Linked DNA regions of Homo sapiens. The protein of the gene in region 1 interacts with the protein of each later gene in a pairwise test. Each region holds a gene or a part of one and is shown in the gene's direction. Other genes may lie near its edges. The genes, in order: ZNF639 and CTNNA2.

Region 1 (3,920 bases):
CACCTGTCATGTGTATCACCTTGGTGTTAAGAGCATTATAGGCCGGGCGCGGTGCCTCGTGCCTGTAATCCCAGCACTTTGGGAGGCTGAGGTGGGCGGATCACTTGAGGTCAGGAGTTCAAGACCAGCCTGGCTAACATAGTAAACCCCCGTCTCTACTAAAAATACAAAAATTAGCTGGGTGTGCTGGCGGGTACCTGTAATCCCAGCCTCCTGCTGGCGGGCGCCCGTAATCCCGGCCACTCAGGAGGCTGAAGCAGGAGAATCGCTTGAGCTGGGGAGGCAGAGGTTGCAATGAGCCAAGATCGTGCCACTGCACTCCAGCCTGGGTGACAGAGCAAGACTCCGTTTCAAATAAATAAATAGATTAATAAATAAAGTTGGGTAAACCTTTATTCAAATCCCAACCCCAGCATTTACTGAGTATCTAGCTTTGACTTTACTGTGCCTCAGTTTCCTCAATAACAGGAACTATAATTTTGAGAGGGTGATGTGAATTTTGCATCTCATACGATTACATAGGATTAAATGAGATAAAGTATGTTCACAGCCTGGTACATAATTGGTGGTCAGTAAATTATTATTATCACTTTTACTTTTTTCTTTTTTTGTTTTGTTTTGATTTTTTGTTTTTGAGAGAGAGTCTTGCTCTGTTGCCCAGGCTGGAGTGCAGTGGCACGATGTCAGCTCACTGTAGCCCTCCGCCTCCCAGGTTCAAGCCATTCTCCTGCCTCAGCCTCTTGAGTAACTGGGATTGCAGGTGCGCACCATCACACCCGGCTGATTTTTGTATTTTTAGCAGAGACGGGATTTCACCATATTGGCCAGGCTGGTCTCGATCTTTTATTTCTTAAATAAATAATCTATAAGGGCTGTAACAGTTTAAAGTTTATAATTTGGGCCAGGCAAGGTGACTCACGCCTGTAATCCCAGCACTTTGGGAGGCCCAGGTGGGTGGATCACCTGAGGTCAGGAGTTTGAGACCAGCCTGGCCAACATGGTGAAACCCCGTCTCTGCTAAAAATAGAAAAATTAGCCCGGTGTGGTGCCACATGCCTGTAATCCCAGCTACTTGGGAGGCTGAGGCAGGAGAATCGCTTTAACCCAGGAGGCAGAGGTTGCAGTGAGCTGAGATCGCGCCATTGCACTCCAGCCTGGGTAACAAGAGCAAAACTCGGTCTCAAAAACAAAAAGTTTATAATTTGGTTTGCTTTCATTATGCTTGCTTTCCTTATGGATGAATAAATTAATTCAGATTCATAGTCCTATTTTGGTGTCAAAAGATTTAACTATAGGTCAGGCATGAGACTGTCTCAAAAAAAAAGAACTATAGAAGGTAAATCATTTCAAAGAAATGTGGAAATTTGCATATAATCACATATTTATCAAGATATACAGTTTTTAGTATGTAGTACATTGTTTTCAAAATAATATATCTTAATTAGTTCTGTATAACTTTCCAATTGATTAAAGATCTGGTGCCATTGTATTATTCAGTACCAGAAATGAGCTGTATTTTTGCTTAATAACTTCTTTCATGTTTTACTTACAGGCATTTTTTACTGTCTACAGAAACTTATTGTAATTCATTTTTCCTCACTCCAGTAGTAAGAATTATACCAAGTAAGTGGACTGTATTGAAACTAATTAATTTTGTAACAGTTAATGAGAATTTAATTGGATAGTGGTTGCTGCATGTGTTGTGTTCTCAGTGGAACGTTGAATGTGACCTCATAAATAGGAAAATGATTTTTTTCTTGAAAATTATTTATATTCTGATCTGTGTGATGAGTACTTTTTTCTGGAAGCCAGGAGGCCGATACATATTTGTGACAATATTTTTTTAAAGGAAATGTCTCCGCCTTTAGCTTGAAAACTACCTAAAAATACTTCCAATGGTAGGAAATGTGCCTATAAAACTCCTAGTATGGTGCCATAGGCACAGTGTTTCTTTTTTTATATATACACAAAATAAAATGACTTAAACATGTGGTTTATTGTAATTATCCAGTTCTCACAATTTATATCAACATTTGAAAAAGAATTTTTTAACCTCCGTAAGAAAGAAAACAGAAATCAGTTTCTGCCTTGAAACCTGACTGGAAAACAATCTGAAATACAAACAGAGGCATCATTTAACACTTTTCTTATACCATAGATTTTCAGGTGGCTCACATATTTCATATTGCCAATAAATTCTTCAGTTAGAATTTTTATAACGTCATTAACAGTTGTTATTTGTGACATATTTGTTAATTTTTTCTCGTTTTTTAGATTGAAAAGATATGAATGAGTATCCTAAAAAAAGAAAAAGGAAGACTCTACACCCTTCTCGTTATTCAGGTCAGTGTATAATTATTTTAAAGTTGGGTATGGATTAATTCCCACAAAATTATATTCTCATCCATTTTCTCCTAAGTGATCAGATAAGACTTAAATATCTGGGTCAATATTTAGGTAAAACAACGGTTTAAATACATTATCTGAATATATATTCCTTATTGTCTACCATGTGCTAGGCACACATAAGAACTTTACAGACATTATATTATTCCTCACAGCTCTATGGGTTATAAATATTTAAAATTAGATAGCCAAGGTTATTTACTTATATAACATAATTGGGATTTGCATGTCTGATACCTAAGCTGTGCTTAAGACCCAATAATGACAACCTTGGTAGAAAATATTTTACATTATTGGGGAAAAAAGACTTTATCCTCTTTATTACTTTAGGAAATGTAAACTTTCATGCTGAATGTGTAATTTTTTTTTTTTTTTTTTTGAGACAGAGTCTCACTCTCTAGCCCAGGCTGGAGTGCCATGGTGTGATGTCAGCTCACTGCAACCTCTGCTTTCTGGGTTCAAGTGATTCTCCTGCCTCAGCCTCCCAAGTAGCTGGGATTACAGGCGTGTACCGCCACACCTGGCTAATTTTTTGTAGTGTTAAAGTAGAGATGGGGTTTCACCATGCTGCCCAGGCTGGATGACTGTGTAATTTTAGATCCTTTCATTGAGGTTGGCTCTGCTGTGTTGGCAGTATAAGAAAAGGGGTCTTTGTGGCCATCTCTAATACACCTCGCATACATTTACTTGGGACCATCTCAGTCTTACCTATTAGTCTACCCAGCCTACACATTCTTCATATCTGAAGAAATTAACCCTAGTATACTGCTTACTGGCCCTTCCTAGACAACACTTGAAATGACTATATTCAGAAGCCCTAAGTGGTCCTTACCATTTCCCCTATGTAACAACCTTTCTCTGCATGACATGGCACACCTTCCTGGTGTTTATTTCACTGTTTTGTGCAGTTAATACAGTGTTTATCATATATTTTTATTTTGTGTGATTCTGAGTATAAAACAAATGTATCCTTGTATATTTCAAAGTTGTTATGTTTTAGAGTATGTAATTTGTGGTTCTTTCAAAGTCCTATGTCAATATTGGATCTGAAATATAAAAGCTTTAAAAGTTGAAAATGTATAATATTTTCATTACAGATACTATAATTAACATTAAGAACATTTGTATAAGTTAGATAACGGGAAGTTTCTCATTAAATATGTATGTTTACTGTACTTGAAATATTTTTCATTTTATGTTCAGATTCCTCTGGAATAAGCAGAATTGCAGATGGATTCAATGGAATTTTCTCTGATCATTGTTACAGTGTCTGTTCTATGAGACAGCCAGATTTAAAATATTTTGACAACAAAGGTATATCTAATATTTTCGAAAATATGTTTCTTTAAACTGCTTTTACATTTTTTATTCCTTACTTGAAAATGTGGGTAAAATGTGGATTGATGATTTCAAAACAGACAAGTCTTTGAAATTTGTTACAATGTAAGAAAACAAAGTTGTATTTTTTTAAGAAAGCAAGTAATTTTAACTATTCTTTTTTTTTTTTTTTTTTT
Region 2 (3,920 bases), on another chromosome or scaffold:
CAGAGTATGAAAAAGATCACAATAATCATTTTTTTAAAAAGTCAATTCTTACGTGCATGCTCTACCTCATTTGACTAGGACAACTTTACTCTTTCCAGATTCTTGGACCATTCAAATTCATAGGTGTCTTCTGCCTCTGGAATGACACTGTATGCAGTATCCCTTTTTATTTAAGCACCTCGCTGGTGCTTACCACATCTTACCACATCAGGGACTTGTGATGCCTCTCTAAATCTTATTCATGCTTCAAAATTCAGCTGAAGGCCTACCTCCTTCCTACCTACTCCAGTCCATAGTATGCACTTTTCATTCTCCACTCTTTATACCTTTTGGCACAAATCATTTGGCGCTCGGCACTTCATGAAGCACATCGTGTGCCTTTAGCGTGTTTCTCCTGTTTCTATAGGCAGTCTAAGAAAAACGCTAGGTGGTAAGAGCACGCGGTGTCACTGTCCGTGGTCCTGAAACATGGTTGCGTGCTAAGATTCTTCTTAAGCCAATATCCGGTGACTCCTGTTCACTTTTTCCCAGGAATTTTTAAATTGGTAAAGTGGTGGGGACAAGAAAAAAGAAAGCCAAAAAGATATTGGGAGAGAAAGATAGAGGCATGGACAGAGGTATCCCTCTCCAGTCATTCCCTAGAGAGAATTAAAAATAGTAGGATTTTATGTAATTTTCAAACAATTGCAGACGCGAACTTGGAAGCAAAAGGGGGGAGGGAAAAATATCAATGGCATAGCCATTGATGAAGGAGAATTTAAAAAATGCATGCACTAAGTGACATAAAGCCATCCAAGTGTCGGCATGAACACACGCACTGATGCTAGTGGACTAGGATACCAAACAGGTAGCATGTTGTGAACTTAGCGTCGGTTGTGTCATACTAAACTTCCACAGATTTTCTTTTTGTTTCTCTCTCTTGATTTAAAACAAAACAAAATTGTCATTTGGCACTGTGGCAGAACAAAGATGACTGTAACTTATATTTCTCATCTGATGTAGCTGTGTACCTTTTTCACTGTTAGCACCTCTGTAACAGTTACATTCCAGCAACATCGAGTCCCAGCTGCCGATGGCTGGCGGCGCAAACACTCCCTGCCCTAGCTATGTAAGTTCCCCAACTACAGTATAACCTCTCAGAGGACGAACATTTTTGGATATCTCAAAATGCCTAAGTACAGTGTCTGGTACAAACTAGGAGCCAAGTAATATCCACTGAATCAAGAAAAGAATCACAATGCCTTCCACGGAGAAAATATTCAACAAAGGCTTGTTAAATGAGCAAATATTCCAGTTGTTTTAACAATTCCATCCTCTTCTAGGTTCTTTTAAAGTCCAAATCTCCCTTCCTCTCCCCTCGGGACTCCACATCCCAACAAACCTCCCTTCCGCGGCAGTCACTACCTTTGCAGCACTCTGGCCCTGCCCTCCTCCTGCCACGTGTCGGACCCCTGCTGGGCTGGCCCTCCTTTCCTACTCTGCGACACCCCTATCCCCCCCGCCCCTATCCTGCCCGCTCCCGCACCCGGTCCCTCTCCCCGGGCCTCGCGACTCCGGCGATTCAGCTCCGGGTCCCCGCCCGCAGGGTAACGCGGTTGTCATGGACACGGCACCTGCGCCCTACGGCGGTGCCCCTTCGCCGCCGTCCCCTCCCCCCACCTGCGGCGCCGAGCCTGCCGCGCCTCCAGAGCTCCGCCCTACCCCGCCCCGCCCTTTCGGGCGCTCCCCAGGCCGCGCGCGCCCGCGGCCCCCCACCCAGCCACCCCTCGATGCCCGGTGCCTTTCCAGGCGCCGCGGAGCCACGGGGACCGCGGGGGCGCGCGAGCGAGCAAGCGGCCGCGCATGCGCACTGGCTGCCTCCCCTAGCGGCGATCCGGGCCGCTGCCGCTCGCGCTTGGGCAGGACGCGGGGCGGGCGGGGGGAGGGGGGAGCGGCTTCGCTTCCAGCCCCGAGTGAGGCGGAGACCCAGGCGGGCGGGCAGAGCAGGCGGCACCGCACCTCGGCCAGAGGCGGCTGCAGCAGCTGCTGCCCTTGTCCCTGCCGCCGCCTCTCCAGTCCCTTCTGTGATTACCACTCCAGCTGCTGGGAACGGGCGAGAAAGAGGAGGAGGCGAGAAACTCCCACCGACCCACAGAGGTGAGTCCCGGGCAGAGCATCCTCCATCCCTGCCTGCCTCCCTCCCTCCCCACCTCCCTCCCATCCTCTCCATCCTCCCCCCTCCCCGCTCCCCAACCCTCCCTCCCTCATCCTTCCCAACATCCCTCTCTCCTCTCCCCTCCTTTCTCCCTTCCAGCCTTTCTTTCATCCCTTTCTTCCTCTCTCCCAGCCCCACTTCCTTCCCACCCTTTCTTTCTTCCCCGTCTTCCTTGCAGCCACTCGCCCTAGAGCACAGCTCTGCATCCCTTTCCTCTTGTCTCCATCTCTTCTTCCCCCCTTTCTTACCTCTTCCCCGGTGGGAGGGTGGGAGCATCCCTTGCCTGCTACAACTGTCCGGATTCAGGGGTTCCAGAAAATTGGGTGCATATACTGAGAGACACACTCTTAAACAGCGGGTGCCCTGCAGATTCCTAAATTTTTAGGATGAAGGGTCAAGTTGGGTAGAGTACTGGGAACTGGAGGGAGAAGAGGATCGAAGAAGAATCTGTGGATTTGTGCTATATTAGGGTGGGGGTGGGGAGGGTTGTCACTTGGACATGCTGCCAACAGCCCCCATACCCCTCTTCAGCAGTTTCTTTTTTTCTTCTGGGAATTACATATTTCCAGTGTGTGTCTCACCAATTTAAAATCCAGCCTTCCCTGCTTTGATTGTCTCCGTGAGAAACCACAACGAAAAAGGAGAAGAGAGGAAAGGAACAAGAGAGAAAAAGGGGAGGGGAGAGGAAGGGAGGTGGCAGTGGAAGCTTGTGTTCTTTTCCCCTAGGCCTCTTTGGTTTGACATTTTCAAACCACCCGCCTCATATTTGGCTTGGAATTGAACCCGTGTGTCCTTGGTCCTGTCACTACCTACTTCAAAGGCAGAAACTCTCTAAACTTTAATGCCTGTGCACCACAGCATTATTTATGGAATGTTTTGCTCAGCATACAAAATACCAAGATAGAAAGGTTTGGGAAAATAGGGAGCAGAAGGGTGGAAGAGAGGTACTTTTGTTCATCATGGGTTAACTTCTCAAGTAGGATAATGGTTAGACAGTTTTGGAGAAATGAGGTTATACTCCACAGGCTTGTAAATATACCATTTAGATGGCATTAGCTGCATTAGAGCCTTTAACAGACACCCTTACCCATTTTCACCCACCTCGTAGGACCCCTGAAGATGTTTAAAGAGAAACATGCTGTGTGATTCTGTTTGTGGCTTACACCAATGGAAAAGTTGAATTAGCTTCGGAACCATTGTTAATAATTTAAAATTGCTGTTGGTTTTACATCACTTATTTTCACAGAATGCTATAATTTACCTTGCTCTCTTCAGCTTGCATTCTAACCCCTTACATTATACATGTTATTGGCAATTTGACAATTCTTTCTGTTAGCATTGCTGCTGTAAAGTTTATTTTTACATGGCGGGACAGCCATGCCTCAGAATGTTTAGCATATTTATCATCTCAGAAGGGTCCAACAGTGTAAGTATAAATCAAAAATGGATATTTTGAAGCCTATATTTTGTTCTATTTATATTCTCCTAAAACAACAGACCAAAAAACCTTAATATCTTTAGAATAGCTGTGTTTTGTGTTTAAGGAGTATGTGTGAGGGACCAAAATTAATGGTGGATTCTTTGAAGTTGCCAGTAAGACACTATGCTGTGGAACACATTATTGATTTTTTTCTTTTCATTTAAATTATTATATGACAGTAGTGCAATATGCAGTTTTGCATTTTATGGGAGTGTAAAGCAGGAGTTGAGATGAAGAGAATTGCCT

Evidence for each region.
Region 2: the proteins of ZNF639 (region 1) and CTNNA2 interact in binary tests that used the Homo sapiens proteins (3 or more experiments, as listed by UniProt).

Annotation. Positions count from the first base shown.
Region 1 is NC_000003.12:179,326,009-179,329,928, forward strand, and holds part of ZNF639 (zinc finger protein 639), read left to right. Parts: intron 1-956; exon of another isoform or gene 957-1,336; intron 1,337-1,552; 5' UTR 1,553-1,623; intron 1,624-2,274; 5' UTR 2,275-2,285; coding exon 2,286-2,343; intron 2,344-3,609; coding exon 3,610-3,720; intron 3,721-3,920. UniProt on the Homo sapiens protein: Binds DNA and may function as a transcriptional repressor.
Region 2 is NC_000002.12:79,511,072-79,514,991, forward strand, and holds the start of CTNNA2 (catenin alpha-2), read left to right. Parts: upstream 1-1,979; 5' UTR 1,980-2,136; intron 2,137-3,920. UniProt on the Homo sapiens protein: May function as a linker between cadherin adhesion receptors and the cytoskeleton to regulate cell-cell adhesion and differentiation in the nervous system. Required for proper regulation of cortical neuronal migration and neurite growth.